Regions from separate parts of the Homo sapiens genome. Here regions 2, 3 and 4 are each linked to region 1. Evidence: fine-mapped expression QTL. A gene starts in region 1. Each other region holds a variant in brackets. All regions are shown on one strand. Distances are from middle to middle.

Region 1 (8,135 bases):
ATCCTAGCACACTGGGAGGCCAAGACAGGAGGATCACTTGAGCCCAGAAGTTCAAGATCAGCCTGGGCAACATAGTGAGACACCAACTCTACAAAAAAAAAAAATCAGATGGGTACGGTGGCTCACACCTGTAATCCCAGCTACTTGGGAGGCTGAGGTGAGAGGATCACTGGAGCCCAGGAAGTTGGGGCTACAGTGAGCTATAATTATGCCATTACACTCTAGCCTAGATAAAATTTAGAGCAAGACACTGTCTAAAAAAAAAAAAGAGGCATGGGAAAAGAGTCAGAGTACATGAATACGTAATACTGTTCCTGCTAGTAAAAAGGAAAAAAAAAAAAACATAATAATGACAAAACCCAAAGAGCCTAAATCTATATAGAGGAATAAAGCCATGTAGATTCCTTTCAAAATGGGAAATAGCACAGATATTGATTTAAAAAGATACAGATTTCAGTTAGGCACAGTGCCAGTCTCAGCTGCTCAGGAGGCTGAGGCAGGAGGATCACTTGAGCCCAGGAATTCAAGTCCAGCCTGGGCAACATAGTGAAAAACCCACCCCCTGGCCCTACCTCATTAAAAAAAAAAGATAACAGATTTCATAGTACAATTTTTTTTAACTGAAATGATTATCAGTAATCTCGAAGTTCTTTGATAACCCTGCTTTATCCTCCACATCACTGTACAGCCAAACATCAAACTCTGAGTCTTCTTGATCCTTTCTTTACATATACACTACCCTCATCATAGACCAGGCCATAAATGCCCTAGTCAAAATCCTAGATTTTATTCTGTAGGCAAAGGAATCAATAAATAACATCAAGATGGGAACATTATTAGAGCTGTTTCAAGAAGGTTAACCACATAAGAGAGCATGTGGGAAGAATACAAACAAGATAATCAATCTAGACAAATGGTAATGTGGTACAAAAATAGTGATGGCAAGGAGGAAGTAACCTTCCCTGTATAGGTACTATATTTCAATAAAATTTACATTAAGATAAGGACTCTTTTTGTATCCCCAAATCTTTTATCATTCCTTTCTTTCAGCATATTGTTTATTTTGGAGGCTAGGTACATGACAGAACACAAAGAGGATTCTGTGCCACAACGCAGAATGAAGGCTAGATAATCAACATTTATATGAAAAGACTAAGGAATCCAAACCAGAATATATCAAGAAGTAACAAACTTTTTTTTCTTTTAATCTGAAGAACCCACAAGCAGAGAACTATACCCAGCAGCATTGCATCTTTACTGGATGGTACTATAAAAAACACAGAGAAATAAGCATATCCTGGTAGAGCCCAGTATAGGATGGGGTTACAAAGGAAAGTTGTCTCTGAGTGTATTTCAAAGTGGAATTAAGTTATCATTGTCTTTTATGTGGCACCACTGAAATGCAACAGGGATGTTTTACTACATTCTTTCTGGTACTGCAATTACACTGACAGCATGTAATTCACTTCTCCATATAAGAGCTGTCAAACCTTTGATCTTCTATTTTGAACAGGGTTAAATATAAAGGGTTCTATCACGCTGGATATACAAAATATTGTATGAAAAGATGTAGAAGGATCTTTATATTTAAAATAAAATTTAAAGTAAGAGTTTTAAACCTCAGCTAAACACAGCCTATATATTAACTCACAATTTAAAATATAATGATTTATTCCTCAGGATATTACACAAATCTATACCTATTTACTTTTCCAAACTTAATTTTGTACATCCCATCTGTGTTTCTCAACGGCACATGGATCATGAATCAGACGTATGTCACTTCTACATACTTTCTCAATGGCACATGGATCATCAATCAGACGTGTGTCACTTCTACATACAGATGCACAAAAAACTCATCAAGATCATCTGTCCCAATCATTCCTGTTTTTATACCAGTTAAGAGGAAACCAAAATTATTTTTCCTAAAGACCCATGAACTCCTCTTCCCAAATGTTTCTCGTTACAAAAACAGAAACCATTGCTCTTTGATTTCAAGTTACGTTGCTTACTCCATAACAACAGTGAAGGCAGAGTCAGCATACAATCTCCCTTGGTATCATCAATATTTAGAAAGGTTCCAAATGTCAGGAACAAAATATACACACACTATTAATTGGGAAATATGTCCAGAAAGTGACAGGGTAAAGAACTTATACACAAAACACGAAAAACAAACAACGATGTTAACAAAACAATGTTTAGGGAGGAAATTTTAATTTAAAAAACAAGTGACTTACAAAGTCGCCCTAAACCTACAAAAACTAAAAAACACAGAAACATTAGACAGACACTCCATTAAAGAAAAATTCTACAGCCTGAATACCAAACTGCAACTAACTACGGCATTCCAAAAGACGAGTTGGGGACAGAACTGTTTTCTGCCTGGCGAGCTGAGATACCACTTTACGCAAAGCCTTTCTAAAACTCCAACAATTATGGATGAAAATCACCCCAAAATATATCATAAAACACTCCCTTCTGCTTTAGAAACCCATTCTGTCCAAAGTGTGCTCAGAAATCCTTATGTCCCTGCACTTGTCTGAAAATGAAGATTCCTAGGCCCCCGCCTGGAAATTCTGATTCGGTAGGTCTGCAGTGGGGCCCAGGAATCTGCCTGTTTATACTTACTAAGGCTTGAAAACTACTGTCTCAAAGGGAACAAACTCAGAAAAATAGAGCATGTTCCCAGTGATGTAGGATTCTTCATTATGAGCATCAACTGTACTATGCCGTAACATGATGATCTCAGAGGTTAGAGAAATCTTCAAGCTATTTGCCTTCATGTTAGAAGCACCATAACGCTAAGATTCTGGGCTCTCACAACCCTTCCTGTTTTCTACGTCCTTGCTCATCATTAGCAGCTCCTTCCTCCGTGTCGCCTTTAGAAGTTACTCTTGCTCCATTTCAAAACAGCGTTTTAGACACCAGCGTTTTTATCTTAAGTTTAAATGAAAGGCAGGGGGCGAGATTAAGTGTACAGCACGTTCTTTAGGACGTGCTCTTTGTGATGGCTACGGGGGTGGCTCAGATAGCTCTTTTGGTAAATTTCCCAATCCTGCGCCATGCTCCAGTGTCTAGTATGTATTAGACACTCATGAACATTAAATGACCAGGTGAGGTAACATTACATAATGGCCCACCATAGTCTTTTACTCTGGGAAAACCCCAATCATCATTGCTACTTACACTGACAAACTGAATGTCGTCTTCATTTTCATCCGTTGTTGACTCAGATGCCTCAGGGCCAGCTGGAGGGACAGATTCTATTATCTATAAAAACAAGCCAAAACATGCTTATCTGTTCAGCCACATTCGTGTAGGAAGAGAGCGTTTCCGAAAGGAACAATTAAAGACAGAGAGCTCTTGAGGAAAACGAACTGAGCACAATTTCACGGAAACCCGACTAGGAACGGAACTCGAGCTCTGGCTCTTGCCACAGAGTGTGCGGAGCTGCAGGGACCCAACGCTGAAAACGCGTTAGTTACCAGCCTCTCACAATTCCCCTTATCTACTCCAGGAGGAACGCAAGCTCAACACCGAAGGGCAATCCTGCCTTAAAACGTCGCTCCCACTGGCCCAGCCGCGGCCACAACGAACGCCAGGGCCCGTGCGGGGGGCCGGGCGGCCATTGTTGCTGCGGGTTCCTCGCTCAGACACGCACCAGGCCCCAGAGCTGGGCTCGGCCCAAGACACTGAAGAGGTATCGCCCCGAGGCTGCGACGGAGCACCAGGCCTCAGACCGCAGAAAACACAAACCCTTCGCGGTTCGCCTCTGAGAACGCCAGGACCCTCACTCGACTACTCACTTCCGACCCCGGGTCTCCCATGTCTCCGACGGCCGCGCTGACAGCACCACTGCTCCTGCTGTCCCTACTGCCGCAGCCGCCACCACTCCCCTTCCCGCCCTGCACCGCCTCGCGCTACCGGGACCCGCCCCTGCGTGAGCTGGGAGGCCACTGGCGGAAAGAGACGAAAACCGCTTCAAAAGAGGGGCAGCCCTCACTGGTCCGCTATCTCCCCGGAGCCTCTTTCTCTCATTCCCGGGCTTCCTTCCCCGCGCCGCAGAGGATGCTGGGATGGTAGTTCCTACCCGCCGCGCGACCGCGCCGCGCGACTGCCCCGCGCGTGGGTGAAGAATGGAAAAAGACTCTGAGCTACAGCGAAGTCGTCTCCCTTCGGTGTTGCTCTACTATAATAAAATAGCCGAGTTCTTTCTCTCACTTTTTCACAACCAAATATTCGTCTATGTAATAGATCAATGGGAATGAAAAAAAATTGTGTGTGATTTGCTCAGAAATTGCCTTACCAAAATCGTGGCTCACCTTTTTATTTTAACATTTATTCACAAATGATTTTAAACATGAAATTTATGAAAGCAAATTTTAACAGAGAATATTCTTTTAAAGCTTTTATTTGTTTACCTCTATCAGCCTAGGACCACCTGTTATTGACAAGTCTGTAGTCCCAGAAAATCACCTTTATCATTTTGACCCTGATCTACAATGCACAAAATTATACAACAAAGGAGCTATGAGGTATCTGATTAGCCAACTGATCTTCAGCAAAGCAAACAAAAACATAAAGTGGGGAAAGGACACCCTTTTCAACAAATGGTGCTGGGATAATTGGTGACCCACATGTAGAAGAATTAAACTGGATCCTCATCTCTCACCTTATACAAAAATCAACTCAAGATGCATCAAAGACTTAAATCTAAGACCCGAAGTCATAAAAATTGCTCAAGATAACACCGGAAAAATACCTTCTAGACATTGGCTTAGGCAAAGACTTCGCGATGAAGAACCCAAAAGCAAATGCAACAGAAACAAAGATAAATAGACTGAACTTAATTAAACTAAAAAGCTTCTGCACAGCAAAAAAAATAATCAGCAGAGTAAACAGACAACCCACAAAGTGGGAGAAAAGGAGAACATAGGAACAAAGGAAAACATAGACTTACTAGGATTTTAAGGAGTTGGTGAAATTTAAGTGAAGCAGTGTTTTGATAGGTTCAAAACCGTCTAGTGCTGTGTGTAAAGGGTTCAACATCACATACGGACTGCATAGCGAGCCCAGGGTCTTGTTAACTTCAAAACTACAAAGTTAACACACACAGAGTATTGTGCTCAGAAACCCCTTCCTCCGTGTAGCCATGCCCTAAGTGTGTGGATTTATTTCTGGGTACTGTATTCTGTTCCATTTGTCTGTGTGTCTGTTTTTATACCAGTACCATGCTGTTTTGGTTACTATAGCTCTGTAGTAGAATTTGAAGTCATGTAATGTGATTCCTCCAGTTTTGTTCTTTTTGCTCAGGTTAGCTTTTGCTATTATTCTCGGTCTTTTGTGGTTCCACATAAATTTTAGAATTGTTTATTCTGCTTCTGTGAAGAATGTCATTGGTATTTTGATGGGGATTGGATTCAATCTGTAGATTGTTTTGGGTAGTATGGGTAGTATGGACATTTTTTAAAAATAAAAATGTATTTTTTATTTCAATAGGTTTTTAGGAAGCAGGTGGTGTTTGGTTACATGCATAAGTTCTTTAGTGGTGGTTTCTGAGATTTTGGTGCACCCATAACCCAAGCAGTGTATCCTGTACCCGATGTCTTTAATCCCTCACCCCCTCCCACCCTTTCCCGAGTCCCTGAAGTCCTATGTGTCATTCTTATGCCTTTGTGTCCTCATAGCTTAGCTTCCACTTATCAGTGAGAACATACAACATTTGGTTTTCCATTCCTGAGTTACATCACTTAGAATAATAGTCTCCAGTTCCATCCAGATTGCTGTGAATACCAGTATTTGCTCCTTTTTATGGCTGAGTACTATTCCATTGTGTGTGTGTGTGTGTGTGTGTGTGTATGTATGTGTATATACACCATTTTCTTTATCCTCTTGTTGATTGATGGGCATTTAGGCTGGTTCTATATTTTTGCAATTACGAATTATGCTCCTATAAATATGCATGTGCAAGGATCTTTTTTGTATAATGACTTATTTTTCTGTGGTTATTCCTCTTCCTAGTAGTCAGATTGCTGGATCAAATGGTAGATCTACTTTTAGTTCTTTAAGGAATATCCACACTGTTTTCCATAATGGTTGTACTAGTTTACATTTCCACTAACAGTGTAAAAGTGTTCTCTTTTCACCACATCCATGCCAACGTCTATTATTTTTTGATGTTTTGATTATGGCCATTCTTGCAGGAGTAAGGTAGATTTGCAGTGTAGTTTTGATTTACATTTTCCTGATAATTAGCTGTGTTGAGCATTTTTTCCATATGTTTGTTGGCCATTTGCATATCTTCTTTTGAGAGTTGTCTATTCATGTCCTAAGCCCACTTTTTGATGGGGTTGTTTTTTTTTTTCTTGCTGATTTGTTTGAGTTCTTTGTAGATTCTGGATATTAGTCCTTTGTCAGATGTATAGATTGTGAAGATTTTCTCCCAGTCTGTGGGTTGTCTGTTAACTCTGCTGATTTTTTCTTTTGCTGTGCAGAAGCTTTTTAGTTTAATTAAGTCCTGTCTATCTTTGTTTCTGTTGCATTTGCTTTTGGGTTCTTGGTCATGAAATCTTTGCCTAAGCCAATGTCTAGGTTTTTTCCGGTGTTATCTTGTACAATTTTTATGGTTTCAGGTCTTAGATTTAAGTCTTCGATGCATCTTGAGTTGATTTTTGTATAAGGTGAGAGATGAGGATCCAGTTTAATTCTTCTACATGTGGGTCACCAATTATCCCAGCATCATTTGTTGAAAAGGGTGTCCTTTCCCCACTTTATGTTTTTGTTTGCTTTGCTGAAGATCAGTTGGCTACAAGTATTTGGCTTTATTTCTGGGTTTCTATTCTGTTCTGTTGGTCTATGTGCCTATTTTTATACCAGCACTACGCTGTTTTGATGACTATGGCTTTGTATATAGTTTGAAGTTGGGTAATGTGATGCCTCTAGATTTCTTGTTTGTGCTTAGTCTTGCTTTGGCTATATGGGCTCTTCTTTGGTTCCCTATGAATTTTAGGATTGTTTTTCCTAGTTCTGTGAAAAACGATGGTAGTATTTTGATGGGAATTGCATTGAGTTTGTAGATTGCTTTTGGCAGTATGATCATTTTCACAATATTGATTCTATCCATGAGCATGGGATGTGTTTCCATTTGTTTGTGTCATCTATAATTTCTTTCAGCAGTGTTTCGTAGTTTTCCTTGTAGAGGTCCTTCACCTCCTTGGTTAGGTGTATTCTTAAGTACCTTATTTTATTTATTTATTTAATTTTTATAGGTATTGTAAAAGAGGTTGATTTCTTGATTTGATTCTCAGCTTGGTCGCTGTTGGTGTATAGCAGAGCTACTGATTTGTGGACATTAATTTTGTATCCTGAAACTTTACTGAATTCATTTACCAGTTCCAGGAGCTTTTTGGATGGGTCTTTAGGGTTTTCTAGGTATATGATCATATCATCAGCAAAAGCAACAGTTTGACTTCCTCTTTACCAGTTTGGATGCCCTTTATTTCTTTCTCTTGTCTGATTGCTCTGACTAGGACTTCCAGTACTATGTTGAACAGAAGTGGTGAAAGTGGGCATCCTTGTTTCATTCCAGTTCTCGGGGGGAATGCTTTCAACTTTTCCCTGTTCAGTATAATGTTGGCTATGAGTTTGTCATAGATGGCTTTTATTACTTTAAGCTATGTCTCTTAAACATAGAGTTGATTTTAAGTGCCTTGAGGTAATCTTCTTTGGGTTAAATCTGCTTGATGTTATATAATCTTCTTGTACTTGGATAATAGTATGTTTCCCTAGTTTTGGAAAGTTCTCTGTTATTATCCCTTTGGATAAACTTTCTCTCTTTTTTTTTTTTTTTTTTTTTGAGACAAAGTCTCGCTCTGTCACCCAGGCTGGAGTGCAATGGTGCAATCTCGGCTCACTGCAACCTCCACCTCCCAGGTTCAAGTGATTCTCCTGCCTCAGCCTCCTGAGTAACTGGGACTACAGGCACCCGCCACCACGCCTGGCTAATTTTTGTATTTTTAGTTGAGACAGGGTTTTGCCATGTTTGCCAGGCTGGTCTTGAACTCCTGACCTGATCCACCCGCCTCAGCCTCCCAAAGTGCTGGGAATACAGGCTTGAGCCACCATGCCCG
Region 2 (8,135 bases), 92 kb before region 1:
CAAGGGTGAAGAGTAACTAGAACTTTCATACCTTACCTGTAGGAATGAAACTAATACGACCAACTTTGGATATTTAGTAGGTTCTCATAAAGTTAAATATAAACCTACTTCTGAACCAACAATTCCACTTTTCAATGTCCATCCAAGAGAAATGAAAACATATGACCATGAAAAGACCTGTGCAAAGTATTCAAAGCAGCTTTATTCATAAAAGCTATAAATTGTAAACAACCCAACTATCTATCAACAAGGGAATGGATCAACAAATTGTGCTATATTCACACAATACTACTTACCAATAAGAAGGAACAATGTACTAAACAATATAGATAAATCTCACAGATACTATGGCAATCACAAATCATACTGGACTCTTTCTTGGTTACTTGATAAATTTGGCCTTTCATTGAGATTTAATCTTTCAAATGTATATGATACTTTCCATTCTGGTTGACTTAAAGCCAAGGTTCTACTTTAACCCTTTCCTCTCCTACTCATACTTACAGAACACACACAGAAGAACATACACAAAACTTAGAACTGTTAGCTTGCTTTACACTTGCAGAATATCAATATATCCACGTTTTCCACAACTCTAACTTCTCTCACTATGTTAAATTTGGCTAATTTCCAGGCAACTGTATATTCTCATTTTAAAAGGAGAGAAACATGGAAAGAAAATGTATTTGTTGAATCTTCTCACTGGCAAACACTCATCCGTATTCCTTTACAGCTCCAGACCAATACAAACCTGAAATGGGCAGTGAGCTCCATGTGGGAACGCAGTGTCTTGTGGCAGGCCACACACTTAACTTGAAAGGGAACATCTTTGCACAGAGAGATCAAAAGTTTCTTTGCAAAAGATGGGAAAGATATTGGATGTGCAATTCCTTTGTTATCTGAAAGACAAAATAAACTATAATTTGCAAAGTTATTTGAGTACAGAGTAACCCAACCTTCCTCCCCTCAGCCCTTCTCAACATTAGTTGGAGTAAGTAAAAGAAGACAGTTATTTTGGCAATAAAAATCTAAGGGAAGCCACTTTCTAGCCTTAAATACAAAGAATGCCTTACTTATACTCAAATTAAAATTTGAGTCTTAAATGCCGAGAAACAGAAAACTTCCAAGATATCATGATATAACATAACATTATCCTGAATAAATATTTGCTTCCCAGGATTTCTTCAGTCTTCAAAGTTAGTAAGCCTTACTCATACGTACAAATAAATATTAAGAATCTTTGTTTTTAAGTAGGAATTGAGATAATCTTTTACTTTCATAGTTCTAAAACTAAGATGAGGATATGTAATCTCAAGAATGATCTGAGAAGTATGATAAATCAGCAAAGATTCAAGTAGTTTAATTTTCAGCAGAAGAGAGTATTAACATACCACCCAGTTTGAAACTCTGATGGAAATGATTCTTTCCAGACATATGCTTTGAACACTCCTCCTTTCTGCTAAAAAGAAGGAAGCAATTTGGACATGCAAAACACTGAATAATCTGAGGAAGAAGGTTGTTGTTATGTCCATCATCTGTGGCTTCCTAAAATATAAGACAAAGCTGTATTATGGAAAACTAAAATAAACACTCAAGTTCTTGAAAAAAACTTTCAAAATTTCCTATTTGTTGTTTATTCGCAATATCCTGTATCAATTTTTAACATGAAAGATGTTCTTCCCTGAGTGTGAATTATGGAACTTTTATCATAACCGAGGTCCCAAATGTCAAATTTTTAGTTTTTTTTCCTCAAAACCAAATTATGGCCATCTGTTGTAGTAACAAATATAGAAGAACATTTGCTTTCTATATAGTTTTCATTTTTACATACACATTCACATGTAATATATAAATGCATAAATGTGATCACACCACATACACTTTTCCTAATGTTTTGCTTTATTCACTCTACCCTGCATTATTATTCTTCCACAAATTTATCCATGCTTACTCAGTTACAAAGACACATAGAAATAAGGGGGAATGTCATTGTTTTATCAAATATTATTTTATAGGCTCTTCTGCCTATTAGTTTTCTCATTCCATAGTACCTAAAGGAAATCCCTAAAAATCAGCTGGTATATCTCTAATTAATGCTTCTTAATGGTTGCAAACTACGCCATGGTGTCAATCTATTCAACTCAGTCAACATTTATTTTCAGTTTTTTTCTTTTTTTAAGTTTTGGGTTTTTTTTTCCCACTAGAAATAATGATCTTGTAAACATCCTTGAATATATATCCTTACTGGTAGGTGCTTTTTTCTTATTCTCAAGAGTGGCCCTACAGGGCTAATGGGTATATATATTTGAATATTAAAAGACACTGTATGACTGGTTTTCAAAAAGGCTCTACCAATTCACATATCCCCTAGTACTGAATGAGCCTGGCAGTAATATATATTACAGATTTTTTTCATTTTTGTCAGGCAAATTTTTGTATTTTTGGTAGAGACAGGGTTTCCCCACGTTGCCCAGGCTGGTCTCGAACTTCTGGGTTCAAGTGATCCACCCGCCTTGGCCTTCCAAAGTGCTAGGATTACAGGCATGAGCCACCGTGCCTGGCCTTCATTGCTACTTTAATTTGCATTTCCTATCTATAAGTGAGTTTGAGCATTTATTCATACATTTTTTGGCTACCCAGATGTGTTCTTATGTGAATTTTTTATTCATATTATTTAGCTTTATTTCTCAATTGTTTTGTTTTTTCTCCTTCTGGTCAGTTTGTATCAGTCCTTTGTTACTGAAATTAATTCTCTGCCTCATTTTCCATTTTGCAATATTTTTTCAAATATCTATTTTGTTTATAGTCTTCTTTATTTATTTTTGAGACACGAGCTCACTCTGTCACCCAGGCTGGCCCACTAGTACCCTTGACATCCTGGGCTCAAGCAATCCTCCTATCCCAGCCTCCCAAGTAGCTGGGACCACAGGCATACACCAATACACCCGGCTAATTTTTTTATTTTTTGTAAAGGCAAGGTCTTTCCATGTTGCCCAAGCTCGTCTCTAACTCCTGGACTCTAGCAATTCTCTTGCCTTGGCCTCCCAAAGTGCTGAGATTACAGGCATAAGCCACTGTGCTCGGCCTATGGTCACTTTTTAAATTTGACACAGTCAAATAAGTATGTCTTTTCTAGCATCTAAGTTTCTAAACCTTGTTAAGAGCCTCCTCTACCTTAAAATAGGAAATTTTAAAAAGTGTGTATTTATAAGTGTATGTATATTTGTGTGTGCTTGTTATAAATATAATTTAACTTCTTGTTAATGGTCTTTAGAGTAATAGCCTCAAACATTGTATTGTGCCTCATATTTACTATCATTAACACTAGAACCATCAGTATAGTTTGTGTAGTGCTTATGAGATGCAACCAGAAGAGAGATAAAAAATTTTTATTTATACCGAGCACATGTCAGGAACCACACTGAGGTTCTAAATATGTTTACCTACTTAATCCTCATAATAATCCCATGAGGTACCATTTTCATTGTTTAGAAATGAGAAAATTGAAGTTCTGATAAGTCAACCAACTTACCCCTCCTCCCAAGTTGTACCCCTCCATAGAAAAGACAAACTTCCATTTAAACCCAGCTTTCCAATCTTGGTTATGAATTATATGCTGCTTTCACTACTCCCTCCCCACCACACTCCCCTCCTGTTTTAATTTGATGAGTGCCACACAGAAGAAATAACACCGAGGAGGACATTTTCATTCCAATTTGAAGATTCTAAATGATAAGAGCAATAAAGGCATTTAGTAACCACCAATTTATACATATTTCTCCTACTTGAAGAACCCTAAACTCATTAAATCATTTTTAGTTTAATTGTGAGTTATAAATGAACTCACATAAAGTTGTTTAAATGATTTGCTCAACAGAACCAAAATGTGATTCTACATAAAATTTTATTAGAATATACTTATTACAAAAATATGGCATACTTGGCCAGGAGCAGTGGCTCACACCTGTAATCCCAGCACTTAAGGAGGCTGAGGTGGGAGGACTGCTTTGCCCAGGAATTTGAGACCACCTCTCTCTCAAAAAAAAAAAAAAAATTTTATATATATATATACACACACACACACACACACACACACACACACACATA[T/C]ATATATATATATATATATATATATATATATATATGGCATAGCTGCAAATACATTCTACAAACTGGGAAAAGGAATGGGAAATAAGATATCTGATAAGTTAAAGTGCTCAATTCCTTTTTACCATATTTCTGGTTACATTAAAAGACACCATACAAATTTGTACAATAAAAAAAGTAGGGCTGGGCATGATGGCTCATGCCTGTAATCCCAGCACTTTGGGAGGCTGAAGCGGACAGATCACAAGGTCAGGAGCTCGAGACCAGCCTGGCCAACGTGGTGAAACGCCGTCTCTACTAAAAATACAAAAAATTAGCCGGGTGTGGTGGCAGGCGCCTGTAATCCCAGCTACCCAGGAGGCTGAGGCAGAAGAATCGTTTGAACCCGGGAGGCAGAGGTTGCAGTGAGCCGAAACTGCACCACTGCACTCCAGCCTGCACAAGACAGCGAGGCTCCGTCTTAAAAAAAAAAAAAAGGCAGAACCAAAATACCATTTCACACCCACTAGACTGGCTAAAAACTGAAACCCACAAACATTGCTGGCGGGAAAGTAAAATGGTGCAGTGCACTAGACAGCAGTTTGGCACTTCTTCAAAAAAATTAAAAAGGTACCATATGACCTAGCAATTTAACTCGTTAGAGGAATTAAAACGTATTTTTACACAAAACTTAGATGTTGGTTTATAGAAGCATTGTTCGTAACAGCCAAAAAGTAGAAACAACCCAAATGTCCATCAACTGATGAACTGTTAAATACAATGCGGCATATGTCCTTACAATGAAATATTATTTGGCAATGAAAAGAAATGAAGTACTGATACATGCTACCATATGAATAAGCCTTGAAACACATTATGGGAAGTGAAACAATCTAGTCACAAAGGCTGTATATTGTGTGATTCCTTTTATATAAAATATCCACAATAGATAAATCCATGGAGACACAAAGTAGCTTAGTGGTTGCCTAGGGATGAGGAAGATGGGTTAGGCAAGGAGAAAAGTCACCTTAGATGATACAGTAGCCCTAGAAACAGAATAACCAGTGGTAGCTTCAACAGACTCACAAATGACACTGAGGTACAAAGGAGCTCACAGTATATCGACCACCACTATCACACAACAGGGAGAAAAGCAGGGTGCTATCTGGTGATGTAATAGCCATTGGATGGGTTTAGGTGTCAAAAGCCACTAGAAACTTGCTACTCAAAGTATGACTCAAGGAACGACAGCAATGGCATCACCTAAAAGCTTGTTAGAAATATGAATCTAAGGCTCCACCTGAGACATCTTGAGTCAGAATCTGCATTTTAACAAAATTTCCAAGTGATATGTGTGTACATTTAAGTTTGAGAAGGCCTAGTCTAGAGTGAAGAAATTGAAGATGAAAGAAAATGGGGGAGGGGAGCAAGGAAAACAATGCAAATTGTGAATAATTTGACTTTTTTCCATTGGGGACTGCCTCTTTACAAAACAGAATTCATACCTATAAAAAACAGCGAGGCTTATACAATCTTCTAGTGACCTCTTCTTGTTGATTTAAAAGAGGCAATTACAACCCCCCATGCATACTAGTTTTCTTTAGAGTCCTTGTGGTGACACAAATGTCAAGGAATAAGCAATCATTGAAGGTTACAGGTCAGGCCTGAAATAGAGTATTACATTTTCTCTTAACAATCTCGTACATAAGCATAACGATACCATTTTAGGGATGAAGAAACTAAACTCACAGATTCAGTAACCTGTTAAGAATATGAAGCAAATAATAGTAACAGTGGAACCCAGGTCTGTCTGATACCAAAGCCTTTGCCCTTTCTATGTTACCATACTGCTTTTCAGAACGCTGAAGGTCATAAATCTACTTCCTAGAGAGACGGCAAAAAGGAGTGCAAAACAGCATGGAATGTGTGATTCCGAGAAAAAAGAAAAAACAAATTAATGAAATTTGGGGAAAAAAATAAGTGAAAAAATTCATTTTAAACTACCTACTCAAATTTACTAAAGAAAACAGACATATATACTCATTATAGTAGAGAAAACACTCAGTATATGAATAGGGAAACATGTCCTGAAAGAACTCTAATTCTGGAAAATGCAGAACATCAGTAACCTACTGCAAACCCTAAAGTACGGAATGCAGTTCTCTTTCACCCTTTTTCCCTTCCTTCCCCAAATCTTCCATTTGTCATGGAAATGGATAACCCTATCATTTCTTTCTTCAATATGTCTTTTGGTTTCACTTTAAGGTCTTCATTCTGAATGCCATTACCTAAGTCAAACAATTCTCTCATCTCAGAGCTAAATTACTGTAAAAGTCATCTAAACTGGTCTCTTTGTCCACATCTTTGAATCCATTCTGAACAATACTGCCATTCTAATGCCACTCAGTCTCTTCAGGGTCTCTAAAAAAAAGGAAGGAATTGGGCTATAGAATTAGAAGTCCTTCTAACTTTAAAAGAATAATGTGTTATTTTCATCATGTCACTGTTCTATAATAGTTTCTTCTTGCCAATATCAAGCTTAAAATCCTGTGTCTTTATGATCATGTTACTATTTATTTTTGTTAGGAATCCCCAAGACTACCCTACTACAGTGCCTAGTCAATGTTGAACAAGACGCAGGCTCTCCAAAAACTAATGAGTCAGTGTAAAATAAAATCTGCTTCAAGATGCACATCTGTTCTGGGAATGTTCTCTAGTGCCAGGACAGAGATGGGGAGGACTGCAGAATTCAATTAGATATACTTAGAATGCAAGCTTTAATTCTCTGCTGTGAACCTACACAGAATCCAAGCTATTCTCCATGTTACTTTCCAGGTATAGCTCTAGATAGAAGCAAATTCTGAAAACATTAACTAAATAAATGTTTTACTATTTCAAAATCTAATATTTATTCGGTAAATCCAATTTGATATTTACTCAAATATCCAAATATGGATATTCTCAAAGGTTTTTAGTTAACAGAATATTTAATATGGCATAGTTTTTAATAATAGAAAACAAACAATACATCCAATGGGAAATTTATTAAATTAATACTATATTCATACAGAAGAAAACAATTCAATGATTTAAAATGTAGAAATGTATGCATTGATTCGATGAATATTTAAGCTTTTATGTTTGCAACACACTGCTTTAAATCACAGAACAATTTAGATATCTTATCTTATGTAAAAACATTTATCTATATATGGAGTAATACTAAAAACACATATATCAAAATCTTAATCCCAGTCCTTATCTCTGTGAGATTAAGGATGACTTCTTGTCTTTTTGTTAATATTTTAAAAATTTTTCATAATGAACATACATTACTTCTGCAATGTTAGTAAGTCATTAAAGTTATCTACTATCAAATATGGTAAAAACCCATTAGAGTTCTGTATTACATGGATGTGCATATCCATGAATCAACTCATGTCTCTTAAGATTTAACACTTACTTAGAATTATATGACATAGCTTTTTAAATACTAGTTATATTCCTCAAAAACTAGCATTAATAACTTGTCATTTACTATATGGCGCCAACATTTCAACAAGCAGTGTAAGACAGTGGACTTAAGAACAGGGTTCTGGTTCTCATCAAGTGACTCACTCAGAGCATCTTGAACAAGGTAATTTAATTTCATAGAGCAACTCCATGAAAGGATTTTGATGATAATCTCTAGGACTGCTGACTGTAAGGTATCAAGTTTACCTGCCTATAATAACTAAATGGCCCAAATCATTTTATTTTCAATTGACAATTACAGTTTTGATACTTATGTGTATCACTGGTAATTGCAAGCTTAAGAACAGCAGGAAAAAACCTCCACTTAACTCCATGGCTATCTAGAAAAATAATACTTTTAATTTAGGACATGCTCTTACCTTATCAAAAAGGTGATCTCTATATTGTTGTTGAGTAACAAATTTTTTATAACATACTACACAAGCAAAGGAGCTGAAGAAAGGTCCATGTAGTGTAATTGTTGGATCACATGGAGAGTGATCGAACCTACTCAGCAAAAGAGGTAAGAGGTAATATTA
Region 3 (8,135 bases), 70 kb before region 1:
AATCTGAAAAGGCTGCATACTGTATGGCCACATATCACATTCTGGAAAAGGCAAAACTACGGTAACTGTAGTAAGATCAGTGACTGACAGGATAGTCAAGGAGGAGGGATAAACTGGCAGGGCACACAAGATTTTTAGGGCAGTCAAACTATTTTCAGTAATACTACAATGACAGATACATGTCATTACACATTTGTCAAAGCCTAGAGAATGTATAACACCAAGTGTGAACCCTAATGTAAACTATGAACCCTAATGTAAACCAAGCTCACATTAACATACAGGCAAAGTGGACAACTTATAAATCACTGTTTACCTACCAAAAAAAAAAAAAGTAATGACAATTCTCCTGCTACAAGGTTGAAAGAAGGGCTGACATTCCTAAATAGAAAGAAATAGAAAGTATATCTTATGCCTACATTTTTCTAGAGACTAGAAGCACAAAATATGTTAATGGAGGTTCACAGATTGAAACAAATGTACCCTGTAGTTTCCAATGAGGATAGTGGAGGTTTTGCATGGAGGGGTGGGAGGGGAGGAGGTAAGTGGACACTGTCTGACTGTACTTTCTGCTCAATTTTATGGTGTACCTAAAACTGCTCTTTTTAAAAAGTCTATTTTAAGAAAAGAAAAATAATAGATCTTCCCTGGCTTCTTTTTTCTTTTGAGACGGAGTCTTGCTCTGTCACCCAGGCTGGAGTGCAGTGGCGCGATCTCGGCTCACTGCAACCTCTGCCTCCCAGGTTCAAATGATTCTCCTGCCTCAGCCCCCGAGTAGCTGAGATTGCAGGCGCGTGCCACCACCCACCTAATTTTTGTATTTTTAGTAAAGATGGGGTTTCTCCATGTTGGCCAGGCTGGTCTCGAACTCCTGACCTAAGGTGATCTGCCCGCCTTGGCCTCCCAAAGTGCTGGGATTACAGGCGTGCACCACCACGCCCCGGCCTTCCCTGGCTTTTTCTACCAGAATGATTGGTTACAAATAAAATATCACTCTTTGGGCAAATCAGTCACATATGTACAACCCAATTTTTATCTAAAGTGGGATAGTGGTGCACTGGCCAAGTCAAACAGCAGGTATGACTTCTTTCTAGAGGTAGAAAGAAGTTATACTGAAGTAAGCATATATAAAAAGGCCAAATTGGTATTTTCAGTATGAGGCTACACCTTTGCAGTAGGGACTGTTTATAGGACCACTTTAGATAGAAGTAACCCCAGCTCACTTTCTGACTACTTGGACAGCATACAGCCTTGCACCCAGGTAGTAGGTGACATTCTACTAACTTCAAAATATCCTTTTACAAGTTACAGGGCAATGCAGGTCCTCAGAAATGGCAGTCACAGGAAGTTATTTTTCTAAACTTTGATCCCTTAGTACAGGCAAATCTGCCTTAAAAGCAAATTAGTGGTCGAGCGTAGTAGCTTACACTTGTAATCCCAGCACTTTGGGAGCTGAGGCAGGAGGTTCACTTGAGCCCAGGAGTTGGAGACCAGCCCAGCTAACAGTGCAAGGCCTCGTCTCTACAAAAAAATTAAAAATTTAGCTGGGTGTGGTGGCATGTGCCTATAGTCTTAGCTACTCAGGAGGCTGAGGCAGGAGGATTGCTTGAGCCCAGGAGATCGAGGCTCCAAAGAGCTATGATCCAGCCTGGGGGACAACAAAGCAAGACTCTCTTCTAAAAAAAGGGGGAGAAAGGTCAAATTAAATTTATTCCTTGCAAAAACTACAAAATGTAGATACTACCTCGAGAAGGAAATTTAGCATAGATCACAAATATAAACTTTAATTTAAAGATGCTGGTAAAATTTAAACACAGGTATAGAGTGTGTTAACTTTCTCAACAGAGATAATACTTTCTAGGTTTTAAACTTTAACAAAAGTCATGCTTGAAAGTCCTGGTAAACCAAGGTCACATTAACATACAGGCAAAGTGGACAAGGTATAAATTACTGTTTACCTACCAAAAAAAAAAAGACAGTAATGACAATTCTCCTAAAGGTTGAGAGAAGGACTGACATTCCTAAACAGAAAGTATATCTTATGCCTAAATTTGTCTGGAGACTAGAAGCTGCAGAAAATTTATCAAGATATTTCAAGTTGCTACCCTTACACCAAACAAAATATTTCCTAATCAAACATTAAGTCACTTATGCAGCCATGTGGGTGTAAGGATAGGAAATCAAGGGATTTTTTTCATCTCTCCGAAATTCCTGTGTCACAACAACAATGTGAATATTCTAGGGACAGGAAGAAGGCCATGTTTTGGATAAATTTAGGTAATCCTAACTCGGGAAGAACTATCCTTGAATTGATGTTTCCACTATCATTTTACTTTGTTCTAGGCCATAATAAAACCATTTTAAGTTACTTTTGAAGTTATAGTCATTCAGGAAAGCTTTACATAATATTTATTCTTCTTAATGTTTACTTTAAAGCATACTAAATGAATCTGATGCAATACTTTTCACTGACCTTTGCATATACTCTTGATGCAAAGGTCAATGAAAATTAAATTCAGAAACACAGCAATTATATATTCAGTAGGAAAAAATTTCAGTAATTCACTAGTCACATAAGTATATTCTTAAAACTTCACTCCCTTCAAATTATACTCACGTGCTATCAAAACATACTCACGACACTAGGAAGATAAGTTGTTTAGCCATTTAAACATTAATTTAGATCTCTTCAACTTCACTCTAAAATTAATCACTAGCCTACCATCTTGGAGGCCTTAAAACCTGTTGGGATTGTCATTATTTACTACAATTGTTTTTCTTATATTTAGCTATTAGTAGCCTACATATTTTATTTAACTACAAGTTGAGCTTCCCTAATCCAAAAATCTGGAAAAAAAAAAAATGCTCTAAAATCCAAAACTTTTTGAGTGCCCGTATGAAGCTCAAAGGAAACATTCCTTGGAGCATTTCAGATTTCAGATTTTCACATCAGGGATGCTCAACCAACAGCTGTAACACAAATATTCCAAAATCCAAAAATATCTAAAACCCAAACACTTCTGATTCCAAGCATTTCAGATAAAGGACACTCAACTTGTATATGGTTATGTCTCAATAAATTGCCTCTGTTATTCTCTACTAATTCTGCTGATCTGTTTATTCTCTTTCACAACACTGAAGGGCTGAAAAGACCCACAAGCCCTAATGCTGAAAACAAAAGGCATCTTAGAATTGACTTTGGGCTTACTTCTTCCCTGTGAGGAGAAAGTTTCTTCATTTTTTTTTTTTTTGTTTTGTTTTCCTTTAGAGATAAGGTCCTCTGGCTGGACTCAAACTCC[G/T]GGGCTCAAGCAATCCTCCCACCTCATCCTACAGAGTAGCTGGGCCTATAGGTACATGCAACCATGCCTGGTTCTATTTTCTTCTTAAAAAGGAAGAAAAAAAGGAACTCTGGCTACCAATACTGAAAACAGATTTGGGAGAAATCTGCTAGGAGTAGAGGAAAAGGAATGGTAGTAGAGAAAGCAAGGGCTTCAACTCTGAAATCTTTGCCAATTTTGAACTGAGAAACTTTAAAACTGAGAAAACGGGTATATTAAAGAAAGATGTTTTAAACTGGGAAAAGATTAGGTATATGAGGCAGACTATTAGTCATATGATATTTTTCTTTTTCTTTTTTTCTAGACAGAGTCTTGCTCTGTCACCCAGGCTGGAGTACAGTGGTGTGATCTCGGCTCACTGCAACCTTTGCCTCCTGGATTCAAGCGATTCTCCTGCCTCAGTCTCCCGAGTAGCTGGGGCTACAAGTGTGTGTCACCATCCCGGCTAATTTTTGTATTTTTAGTAGAGATGGGGTTTCGCCATGTTGGCCAGGCTGGTCTCAAACTCCTGACCTCGAGTGATCCGCCAGCCTCAGCCTTCCAAAGTGCTGTGGCGTAAGCCACAGCACCCTGCCCATACAATATTTTTCCATTACAAATCTTGGCTTTGGGGGTCAAGGTAGCTGGTTAAAGGGGCCACTCAATTCTTAGCACTGAGAATTTCTACCATTCCCCTAATGCCACATACTGACGTGTAATTTAATGTGAAATTGTAAAATTCCAGAACTCCTTTCCTTAGGCTGGATTTGCCATCTCCCACAAAGCCCATAACTTGAATTATCACTTAGGTCTTTGGACCTAATTTCTAACAAAGGTAAGGCTTTCAGATATGACCTGAATTCACTTCTCAAGCTAGAATTGAATTGGCTCTGATCCATGGCAAAAATCATTATTTTTTTTAAGTTTCATTTTGAGTATTAGCAGCTATAGGATCTTCAGGGTTATCCTCCTTGAAGTATTTCCTATGGTCACCCTGGACTAATGTCTTTAAATAAAACACATAATATTAAAGGGTCCATACCGACAGTGAATAAGCTATCAATGCTAGCCAATCAGTGTTGGGGAGAAGCACAGGAAAGCCTTAGGAAAAATATTGGGAAAATTGGAGGTCTTCTGTTTGCCAATACTTCAGATCAATTTCTGCATTAGTTTTCTTCCATACCCAGAATTGCATAGAATTAAGGAGGATGTAAAGCCAGAAGAAGCCTAAAGGCAGATTCTGGTTCAGTCACTATGAAATTCTTACATTCTCAAATATACTTCTTTACATTTTTATCTAAAATTTTAGGTAAAACATGCACAGAGCAAATTTCGGTTGTATCCTAGAAATGATAGCCATATTGAGGATACTGGTTACACCTGACGAAACATCTCCATGAAAGTTAAGCATACACAGGTAAAGCAACACTTCTAAACAACGTTTATCTTTTAATGTATCCTGGTAGAGTTACAGCAAAAAGTCCAAGTCTAGAAATGACAACCTGACACAAAATCCCATAATCAACGAAATGATAATGTTAAACTTACATTTCAACATCTCTTCCCTATTAGTACTAATAGATCAATCAATTAGATACTTTTTTTTTCTGACAGGATCTCACTTTGTTACCCAGGCTAGAGTGCAATGGTGTGACCACAGCTCACTGAAGCCTCAACCTCCTGAGCTCACTTTTAAGCAATCCTCTCACTTCGGCCTCCTGAGTAGCTGGGCCTACAGGCATGTACCAACACTCCCAGCAAGTTTTTCTTATTTTTGTGAAGACAGAGTCTTGCAGTATTGCCCAAGCTGGACTTGAACTCCTGGCCTCAAGCAATCCTCCCATCTAGGCCTCCCAAAGTGCTAGGATTACAGGCATGAGCCACTGTGCCAAGCAACACTTGCAGTTTTTAAGTGAAAATGATCCTGTAAATATATATATGAATAAAATCTAGAAAGCTATATAAATCAAAATGTTAAATAGTGGTTATTTCTGTCTGGAGGGTTTTTTCTTTTTTACATTTATTTTCTAATTTTTCTACAATCAGCATATGTAATAAAATTGTTAACTAATTTTAATTATTAATGAAGAAGACTATACAAAGACAAAAATGTTAAGGATCTCAGTCTTTTGTTTGGGAACATAATGGACTTGGTTTAAATCACTAATTTTGCCTTATAAAAATATGTTTAATATATATCCTACAAAAATATAGACAGAAATGCTGCATCTAGAAGGAACATAATCTATTAGTAAATTGTATGTAACTTTTCTCAGATTTTTGTCCCTATATGTATAATGATTGGGTTACATTATTTTCCAAACTCAACAGAAACATATTAATCAAGAATTAAGGAAAGTCACTTTCAGGTCAACAAGCTTAATGGCTATTGGGAAAATATTTTTACACAAATTTCAAGCCAAACACCGTTATCACTTAAAGCAAAAAACATTTAGCTAAAACACAAATTTGTATATATTTTTTTACATATATGGTTTTCCTAAAAGCATGTCTGATTTTGTATTTTAAAGTGTATTTAAAATACTGATGAAAGTACACTTAGTCAAATTAAAAGTTGAAACTTAAAAATATATGCTTATTCAGCTCACTTAGACCTGACCTTTCTCTATTCTTCTTTGGAATGTAAATATAGAAAGCAGGATTCTTAGTTTTTCCAATCACAAAGATAAGTTCTCTTAGGTAAGTTTAACAAATGTGCTCAAAAGGAAGCTAATTAAAAACCAAAATAAATTTTTAGTAGAAGCTAAATTTCTACTTAAGTAACTTCAGATGAATGTATATGACTTCATACATGAACTTTCTGTTAAAATTCATCTACAAATGCCTATTTCTTGAACAATTCACTCTCGATCCTGAAAATGTAGTATGGTTTAGGAAGCTAAATGCCAGACAGAACTGGCTCTAAACTGTTTTATAAAAAATTTTTCGGCTGGGCGCGGTGGCGTGATCACGCCTGTAATCCCAGCACTTTGGGAGGCCGAGGTGGGCAGATCACGAGGTCAGGAGATCGAGAGCATCCTGGCTAACATGGTGAAACCCCATCTCTACTAAAAATACAAAAAATCAGCCGGGTGTGGTGATGGGTGCCTGTAGTCCCAGCTACTCGGGAGGCTGTGGCAGGAGAATGGCGTGAACCCGGGAGGTGGAGCTTGCAGTGAGCCGAGATTGCACCACTGCACTCCAGCCTGGGTGACAGAGCGAGACTCCATCTCAAAAAAAAAAAAAAAAAAATTTTTTTTTCTCAGAAGACCCATGAGTATATTTTTTACAAATATTAAATTCAGGCAGATCTTTCACTTTATTCTTCATACATCACTCATCGAAAAGTTGAACCTCTGAGTAACTTATTGTGATAACTAGCTAAATCAGTTACTTTAAATGTTTGCAAATATTAACTCAAAGGGAATGCGGAATTAATGGAGTGATTTTACTTTTGCAAAGCAATTTCTAGAAAACAATATTAAAAAGCAGGACTAGGTAAAGAAAATGTAGTACATATACACGACGGACTACTATACGGCCAAAAAAAAAAAAAGAATGACATCATGTCCTCTGCAGGAACATGGATGGAGCTGGAGGGCTTAGTGAACTAACACAGGAACAGAAAACCAAATACTGCATGTTCTCACTTATAAGTGGGAGCTAAATAATGAGAACCAATGGGCACAAATAGGGGAACAGCAGACATTGGGCCTGAATGAGGGAGGAGGGAGAGCACCAGAAAAATAACAATCGGTTACCACGCTTAGTACCTGGGTGACAAAATAATCTGTACCCCAAACCCCCGTGATACAAGTTTACCTATAAAACAAACCTGTAAATGTACCCCTGAACCTAAAATAAAGGCTTTAAAAAAAGAAAAAGGAACAAAAAGCTGGGCTTCATAGAAGAAATTATTTTATAATAGCTCATAGCATTGTACTACTTTGTGGCTTTTTAATGATAAAGAAATGACTTATATTTGTAAATCATTATTACTAATTTCAGAAAGCACTTTAGTTCTTGATGAACCAAAAAGCTTCCATTTTATATTTTCTACAAAATTACTTTAATAGAAATATGAATATATTATGAACATGAAGTCACTAGACCTCTCTGTGAAATGGAACAATTTTGCTCCATATACCACACACGGTGATATAACCTAGGAAGAAAGCACTCTGCAAGAACAGTTACTACCCAGAGAAGTGATCACAACAACCCAGTTTCCTATCTCACTCATCATAGGCACTTTCTGCCTACTGAAAAAGCCAGTAATAGAAAAAGATGCAATTTGTAGGAGGGAAGAAGGTAAAGAATAAGGTGAGGGGATATACACAAAACAATCCAAGGCAGGTTTATTTACAGTCATAATATCTCCCTGAACATCAGCTGGCACTGATGATCCAGAGGAGTACCAACTGGAGACTATTTCTTTCATCACCTCTATCTTATATGTAAGGGACTCCAAGTTCAAAGAAAGCTCAAAGGAACAACCAACTGCAAAAGAATTAACTTTGCACATCATCACGGTATCTGACTAGCGCATTTGGTTTGAACAGAATTCCTGCAACAAATGGATTACTTCATAAAAACCCAATTTCAAAGTCCGCTTATTATTGCCCATCCTAAAGCTTCAATTCATAGTTTGGTCTGAAGTTTGCACCACCCCCCAAAGTTCTGTTTACCAGAAGCCCCTTCTACTCAACTTATATAACTCAAACCCGTATCCCAAATAACACTTTGAAAAGCAATGGTTTTTCTCAAGAATTTTATATGCAAATACAGATAAAGCAGAAGAGATAAACGCAGCATAAC
Region 4 (8,135 bases), 150 kb before region 1:
AGGTTTAATGAAACTGAAATAATAGTTATGTATACAATGGAAATTCTTCTGACTTCTTCATGGAAGTCTTCTTTAATGTGTCACTTTACCCAATTTGAAAGGGAACCTATGTTTGTGTGTCCTGGATTATCAGAGAAGCAGTACTTGAAAATAGAATAGATATATTGAATAGCAGTATACCAGTATGTGTCTCTTGAAGAAATCTATATATATGAAAGTTCCAAGTGACAGTGTTAATGAACTTTTAGGTACAGTATCATATAAACACATAATTTCTTCTTTTAGACAGGATTTACCACTGATTTTATTGAAGTAGCTTGCTTATTTACAAACTTACACCAGTTATATAAAATCGATATACTTGAGAAATTGGGTGAATTCATGTAACTTTTGAATATATAGCTTATTTTTTTCGCTTTTGAAAATGTAGGATTTATTGTAATAATGACAACTAAGGTTTCATGATTGTACTAACATACAAATGACCAAAGAAGTTGCCTTTCTAAATTGGTACCAAGGAAACTTGACTTCCACTGCCTGCTCTAAAACATATTTTGGTTTCTTGCCACCACTACTTACCACTCTATTTACTGTGTACTTTAAGGCTTCCCGTCCACAGTAGCTTTGGTTATTCTCTGTGGCTACCAGTTTGGATCCTGAGCACCTGTATCATGGTCTAAGGTTGAGAATTATGTTTTTACTACCCCAAGCCGTTCTTGGAGTAGATGGTATTTTTTTTCTACCCCTCTGTCATTCAAGTAGATGATATTTGTATCAAATTATGAATTTCATCAGCCTTGACAGTATTGATTAACAGGTCCTAAATGTACAGTTTTATTCTTGAGTAAAAGTTATTTGTATTTTTTAATGGGGTTATTACCACTACCTTCCCCACACACTCAGGAAAAAAATAAACATAAAACCTATGTGGAAACACCAGAAAGAAGTAGGATTACTTGAGATTTTCATTATTTTATTTTTATCTAGTGAACTTGGTCTTCTAAATTCTCTGCATGAAATGTCTGTTCTTTTTTTTGAGGAAACAGATAGGCTGGCCTAATCCTTTCTAAGCTTTTGACAGTTTGATGTGGCAGTTATTACTTTTTAACCAATAGGGTTATTTTTAGAGAATATATTTGACATTATGTTTCTATAATTTAAAAAGGCAAAACTGGTTGGGCACAGTGGCTCACGCCTGTAATCCCAGCACTTTGGGAGGCTGCGGCCGGCAGGTCACCTGAGGTCAGGAGTTCGAGACCAGCCTGGCCAATATGGTGAAACCACGTCTCTACTAAAAATACAAAAATTAGCCAGGTGTGGTGGCGCACACCTGTAATCTCAGTACTGGGGAGGCTGAGGCATGAGAATAGCTTGAACCCAGGAGGCAGAGGCTGCAGTGAGCCGAGATCATGCCACTGTACTCCAGCCTGGGTGACAGAGCAAGACTCTGTCTCAAAAAAAAAAAAAAAAAAAAAAAACAGCCTATCTTAGTAATTTAACTTTTTAGCTGACTGTATTAAAATGGCAAAGAGGGTGAGATACTGAGATAGGTCCTCAGTTTCAGCGTCTTCTTTTTCTAAATGGTAAAAGTAAACATTTATCACAATACAATATGAATTAAAGAAAAAACAGCAATTATACATAAAATTGAAAAACAGTATATTGAACATTATTTTATGTTTTCCCTTTGGGAAACCTCTTTGGGGTTCCATTAGAATGCTTTTGGTTGCTGCCAAATAAAAGGAATTTCGTACTGTCTTAAAACTACAGAGACTTACTGATTTGATAGAAAAGTCTGGAAATAGCATCCCTTTTAGTTGTTTGTTCAGCCTATAACCTTACTGATTCTCCTGGCTTTGTCTCTTCCCTGTGTGGTACCGGTACCTCCTCATGTTGATTTCCTTTTGGGTTGCAAGATTATCACCAGGAGCAATGACAGCCACATGCTTTGTTTACATCCTTGGGGAGAGAGGGTTACTTCCCACAGCAGTGGTTCAGATGTCCTGAGCTTTTCTCTGATTAGACCACCCTTGACCTGATTGCAATAATGAGAGGAATGTGATTAATTGACTTGGATCACATTGTGCTCCTTGCCACCACCACAACTCCCACCTCCAGCAGAGAATAGGTTTAGTCTACCTAAACCATATGGCTACTATACAGTGGGGGAAAGGTGTTTTTAGGGAGAGATGCCACCTAGGCAATCAGACAATATCTGCTGCTAGTACAGATTTAGATAGTGATGAAATTAAATAGAAATAAAAGTAAGAAGAGAAGGTAAGGGCTAGAAAGAATGAATTAAGATACAAATGTAGTGGTAGAAACACTATGCCATATATAGTTATGACTTGCTGATTTAAATCCTAGAAATGTGTTATTAATGATGCATAAAAATCAACAAATTAAAATTTTAAAAAGAACAATTTTATTATAATTCATTTAAAAGACCCATTATATCAAAGCCATTGCTCAAAGGTATTATTATGGACTTGGAATGCTGGCTTAATTGTATAGTGAGAGATGTTGAAACAAGACCTTCTTGTAAATAGGTTACAACAGAGCACAGATTAGGAAGCCTCTGGGATCCCAAGTGATTTCTCTAAAGCTTTTTAGAAAGTTGACTCCAGGCAGTAGGAACCAGTGATTTTAGTTAGTACAGAAAGATACAGACGACATGAAATAGATTTTTGTTACAGTTTTTTACTGTGACTTTGGTTTGTAGGAGAGGAAAAATATCTTTTTCCTTCTACTCTTTTTGGTCCTTGATTGGGTCTCTAACAAAAGACAGATTAACAAGAGAAAAACTTATGAATTTATTTAATATAAGTTTTATGTGACAAAGAAACCTTCATAAGGAAATGAAAACCCAAATAAACAGTTAAACCTGAACGTTTTTATACCAGGTTTGAGGAAGAGTGCAAAGTTGTTGAAGAATGTGATAGGACAAATATGAGCTAAGAGCAGTAAACTGGAGGAAACTTAGCAAGATTCATCAGCAGAGGTTCATTCAGATTCCTTTTGGTATCCTTCTCTCTTCAGAAATGAGGATTCTCCTTTCCTCTGGGTATATGGAGGTCACCTCTCACCTGAGGGGCTTATGACCTCCTTCAGGTGAGGGTCAGAAAATCCTTCCTTTGGGAGGCCAAGATGGGCGGATCACCTGAGGTCAGGAGTTCAAGACCAGCCTGGCCAACATGGCAAAACCCCATCTCTGCTAAAAGTATAGAAAAATTAGTTGGGCATGGTGGTGGGCGCCTGTAATCTCAGCTACTCAGGCTGAGGCAGGAGAATTGCTTGAATCCGGGAGGCAGAGGCTGCCGTGAGCCAAGATCATGCCACTGCACTCCAGCCTGGGCGACAGAGCAAGACTCCATCTCAAAAAAAAAAAAAAAGAGAGAGAGAAAATCCTTCCTGAATTTTAGGATCTGCTTCAGAGGAGAAGGGGCTAGGGGAGATCAAAGTGACTCTCCTGCTTCTGCTGTTTTCTCAGATTCCTTCAGCTTAAAATATTCAGTACGTCAAGGTGCCATATTTTAGTTTAGCATGTCCAGAGCCCCATTACTGGTATCTCTTAGATGTGGTTCATCTCTGCCCCTATGAAATTCATGTGCATTCTTTGCCCTGCCATTGGGAGAGGCACAGTTCCTTCCCAATATAGCTCTCTGCTTTTTGTCTGCTGGTTTTGATTTTTCACTCTCACTCTCACCCATTGCATTTTTCTCAGGCTTGAATCAAGGCATCACTAGTCCCTAATGTCCGCCAGTTGCTGGAAATACGTAACAGCTTCCTAAATTGGTCTTGTCAGCATCCATTCTTTAAGGTTTGAGATGAAG[C/G]AGGTGGTGATAGCACCCTCATCCATCCTACTGCACCTTTTTGCAGGAGAAAGGGTTTGGAGTACAGTACTTCCTCTAAAAAAATTCTTTTTTTTTTTTTTTTTTTTTTGAGACAGAGTCTCACTCTGTCACCCAAGCTGGAGTGCGATGGCATGGTCTCAGCTCATTGCAACCTCCTCCTCCAGGGTTCAAGTGATTCTCCTGCCTCAGCCTCCCAAGTAGCTGGGACTACAGGTGCCCACCACCACACCCAGCTAATTTTTGTATTTTTAGTAGAGACAAGGTTTCACTATGTTGGCCAGGCTTGTTTTGAACTCCTGACCTCGTGATCCGCCCACCTCAGCCTCCCAAAGTGCTGGGATTACAGGCATGAGCCACCGCACCCGGCCAAGACATTCTTTACAGATCCTTTTCCTTTCCAACCCCCATCTCATATTAAAAAAAAAAAAAAAAATTCTTGAAGTGCTTGAGGGAGTTCAGAGTTGTGCAGCAGGATCAGCCATTTGCTTTCTAAATTCTGCAAATAATGATCTGTCTCATAAATCTTGGAATCTTGTATTTGTTACATGCTTTATTGGTACCTCAGTCAAAGTTTTTTTTTAAAAAAGGGTGGAGGGTAAGGGGTCATCTTTTGAGCTTTTTAAACTAAATATTAGAAAGGGCTTTCCGGTCATTAGGATTTTTCCAAACATAAAAGAACCATGATGAATCACAGTTTGACAAAGTATTTTATCTGTCTAGATGGAAGATGATATTCAGTTAGGGGAAATGGAAACAAGTGGTTGTCCAACATTTGTCAGAATTATTATAACCATAAAAGTAATCCATAAAAAGTAATCCAGTTGATTTTTTTTCCATTTTAGTAATATTTTTAGGTTAAATCAGACAAGGTGGTGCAGCATTTGATATAAAGGCTTGGTATCAGGTGAACCGTCCTGCTTTGGAGATTTGTGTACCATTCTTTCTATAGATTGTAATTTATCTTCTTAGGACTTATTTTTGCGATCTTATTTCAGATTTTTTATTTCCTGCAGTTCTTGTTTTTTCATTTTGTTCTTTATACTGCAGAAATCCATTTTTCTCCTGTGGTTTAATAGTCATACATTCTCTTATTCTTAAGGTGATTGCCTTTAACTTAAGGCATTTACTGTCTTAGTTTAAGCCTCTGTGTGCCTTCCCACTGCGCCACATGGGTGGGGCTCGTTTATTTGGGACATGATCCCAGGAAGTAGAGTGAAAGACTAGGGAGAATGAGGCAAGGAAGGGAGAAAAACCAGTAAAGCGTTCTAAGTATCACTGTGGGCCACTGGGGCTCAGTCTCCCTGAGGAACCATGAAGAGAGGCCTCAGGAGCCCACCAAAGGGAGGCTGAGGTGTTCATTCCACCCCCCCGCCACCCAGAGGCATCACTTCCCCCTTGGGGGATGCATCAGAACAGCCCCCAGCAGAACAGCAGAGCCCCCTGCAGCATAGGCAGGAGCAACTGGCACAGGAACTGTTCTCCACAGCTGCGCTGAAGCCCGGTTGAGGGGACATGCATGCAGCCACAGGCCTCTGCTGCAGGGTTTGTTTATTTACCTCCCTGATTATGTAAACATCTTCCCTTTCTTCACACAAGCACTTTGGCACATTCCCACATTTCTCTGGTCTGTACCCATTCTGTCCCCTGCTAAATAATCTTGGGGTTGTTATGGACATACTTTCTTTTGGTCTTTGATTTTTTAAATAATGTTGAGCTTTTCTTAATCATTCTTACTGCCCGTATCTCTGGCATTATCTGTTTGGGGTTTTTTTTCCATCATATATGCTTCCTCTAAGAGGTTTTTTTGGTTAAGTGTCTGAGACCTTGAACACTTGGAAATACCCTATTGTGCCCTCAAATTTAAATGACAGCTGGACATAAAGCTGTAGGCTTAAAGGTAATTCATTGAGTTTTATGATAAAGAACAAATTTTTTTTTTTTTTTTAGACAGAGTCTCACCCTTTTGCCCATGCTGGAGTGCGGTGGCACAATCACAGCTCACTGCAGCCTCAACCTTCCAGGCTCAAGCAATCCTCCCACCTCAGTCACCTGAGTAGCTGGGACTACAGGTGTGTGCCACCACGCCTGGCTGATTTTTGTATTTTTTGTAGAGATGGGGTTTTGCCATGTTGCCCAGGCTGGTCTTGCAGTGGCGCGATCTCGGCTCACTGCAAGCTCCACCTCCCGGGTTCATGCCATTCTCCTGCCTCAGCCTCCCAAGTAGCTGGGACTACAGGCACCCGCCACCACACCCAGCTAATTTTTTGTATTTTTAGTAGAGACGGGGTTTCACCGTGTTAGCCAGGATGGTCTCGATCTCCTGACCTCATGATCCACAGTTTCTTAAAATATGATTACATAATTTTTTTTATTTGTAGTTGAGGTAAATATTACAGCTCAAGTAAATATAAGTTTATTTATCGGTATACTAATGTGATCTCTTCAGTTTTATTTTCCCTTAAATTCTGAGAAGGTCTCAGGGTGTCTTTGTCTCTCTCTTTCTGTATTTTGCATTATTCATTTATTATTTGGATTAAAACCTGTTTTTAGGCCAGGCACAGTCACTCACACCTGTAATCCCAGCACTTTGGGAGGCTGAGGCAGGCAGATTGCTGGAGCCCAGGAGTTTGAGACCAGCCTGGGCAACATTGGGAGACCCATCTCTACAAAACAAACAAACAAAAACAAAACAAAACAAAACAAAAAAACAAAGAATTAGCTGTGCATGATGGCAGGCTCCTCCTGTAAGTCCCAGTTACTCAGGAGGCTGAGGTGGGAGGATTGATTGAGTCCAGGAGGTCGAGGCTGCAGCGAGCCATGATCATGCCACTGCACTCCAGTTTGGGCAACAGAGTGAGACCTTGTCTCAAGAAAACCAGAAAACAAAAAACCTGTTTTTAGGGTAGGGAAGATTTTCCAAATGAACCTTCTGTTTTTACAGTAATAGCAAACTGCTGTTTTCTTTCTGTGGTCTTTTGCTTTCTACAGTATTCCCCCAGTGATATATAGATATACAGACTAGTTTTGGCTCTAGAGTGTCTTAGATAGCCCAGACATATCTTGAGTCTTAGTAGAAAACTCTTATACCAGAGGGATGTGTAAGGAAGGAGTAATGGTAAGAAAACATGCCTTGATTTCAGGAAATCCTCTTGACCCCCAGGATGATTTTCTCTTGTTGCTTACATGCCTGCTTTTATCACCATGCTACCTGAATCAATAGCTAATAATTTATAAAACTGCTTCTTCTAAGAGGTTTCTGCTTATTTTAGTCTTTGATATTATCAGCCTAAAATGACAGTTGATGGTTAAAATATTGTCAATGGATACAATATGGGTGGGTAAAATTATGCAGTTAAACAGGGTAAAACTAAGTTTCCCCCAACCCCTCTATTATATATATATATACTCTTGGCATTGGCTTTCAAATTATGTTCCTTAGGATCACTGGTATTCTACTGAAATAAAATAATACAATTTATTTAAAAAGTGAATAGAATGAACAAATTATGATTTTTTTCTCATAAATTTTTCTTAAATCTGCGCTGAAAGAAATTAAGCAAATGACATTTTTCTTAAATCTACGCTGAAAGAAATTAAGAAGCAAATTAACAAGAAGAATTTGGCAACAGCCTGTAATTTTAGTTTACCATTCTCTCTAGCTTTTATAATGGAATTAAATCAGTATTTTATGGTATTCCAAAAAGAATGTGTATGCTTTTGAGGTACTTTGACAGTTGAACACATTTGAGAACCACTGTTTTTGGTAAAAATGAAAATAGAATTTATATGTTGAAAAGTAAAGAAGAGTAGTGCAAAGATGAATTCAACATAAATAGAGTTTATATGTTGAAAAGTAAAGAAGAGTAGTACAAAGATGAGTTCAACATTTATTTACATAAAAGTTGTTTTGAATGGATAAAAGTTGCCCCCATTCTTCATGAGATTGTTTTCTTAATGTAAATGTAATATGTTAATGTAAATACCTTGATTGATTGATTGATTGATTGTGAACTTACAGGAGCCCAGGCTTGTGTGCTCGTGTTCTCTACCACAGATAGGGAATCTTTTGAAGCAGTTTCCAGTTGGAGAGAGAAAGTAGTAGCCGAAGTGGGAGATATACCAACTGTACTTGTGCAAAACAAGATTGATCTTCTGGATGATTCTTGTATAAAGAAGTAAGATGGCTACTTTTGGGGAAGGAGGGACAGTAATTCTATAAAGTTAAGACATCTTAATTTTTGCATAGTTTTACAGGTTCTAGGAAAAATTCTATACTTTCAT

Which allele goes with the higher level. Alleles are on the strand shown, and positions count from the first base shown. SD is a standard deviation of normalised expression in the study named. Not every link is listed here.
For the expression in macrophages after interferon gamma of the gene that starts at base 3,896 in region 1, allele T in region 2 goes with a higher level than allele C (large effect, 1.3 SD a copy in Alasoo 2018).

The links. PIP is the estimated chance that this variant, and not a neighbour inherited with it, causes the effect.
Region 2: its variant is the best candidate, but not a certain one, in a credible set for the expression of KIAA1586 in macrophages after interferon gamma (Alasoo 2018, PIP 0.73).
Region 3: its variant is the best candidate, but not a certain one, in a credible set for the expression of KIAA1586 in blood mononuclear cells (TOPMed, PIP 0.70).
Region 4: its variant is the best candidate, but not a certain one, in a credible set for the expression of KIAA1586 in lymphoblastoid cells (GTEx, PIP 0.66).

The regions. Positions count from the first base shown.
Region 1 is chr6:57,042,454-57,050,588 of GRCh38, reverse strand. It overlaps KIAA1586, which reads right to left and starts at 3,896. Exons shown (of 4, transcript NM_020931.4): 1 at 3,813-3,896; 2 at 3,193-3,276. The coding sequence starts at 3,833. RefSeq lists enhancers at 2,431-3,308, 4,125-4,214 and a silencer at 4,844-5,138.
Region 2 is chr6:57,134,712-57,142,846 of GRCh38, reverse strand. It overlaps ZNF451 (zinc finger protein 451), which reads right to left. Exons shown (of 15, transcript NM_001031623.3): 7 at 7,977-8,103; 8 at 1,392-1,545; 9 at 752-899. All of the region lies in intron 2 of ZNF451-AS1 (ZNF451 regulatory antisense RNA 1), which reads left to right. Among named protein-coding and RNA genes, the nearest start is that of ZNF451-AS1, 33 kb to the left of the region's middle. The variant T/C (reference allele first, on the strand shown) is at 4,108.
Region 3 is chr6:57,112,055-57,120,189 of GRCh38, reverse strand. All of the region lies in intron 3 of ZNF451 (zinc finger protein 451), which reads right to left. ZNF451-AS1 (ZNF451 regulatory antisense RNA 1) reads left to right here. Exons shown (of 4, transcript NR_110742.1): 3 at 4,627-4,734; 4 at 4,932-5,279. Among named protein-coding and RNA genes, the nearest start is that of ZNF451, 26 kb to the right of the region's middle. The variant G/T (reference allele first, on the strand shown) is at 3,300.
Region 4 is chr6:57,196,344-57,204,478 of GRCh38, reverse strand. RAB23 (RAB23, member RAS oncogene family) reads left to right here. Exons shown (of 7, transcript NM_016277.5): 4 at 7,873-8,029. Among named protein-coding and RNA genes, the nearest start is that of RAB23, 22 kb to the left of the region's middle. The variant C/G (reference allele first, on the strand shown) is at 3,834.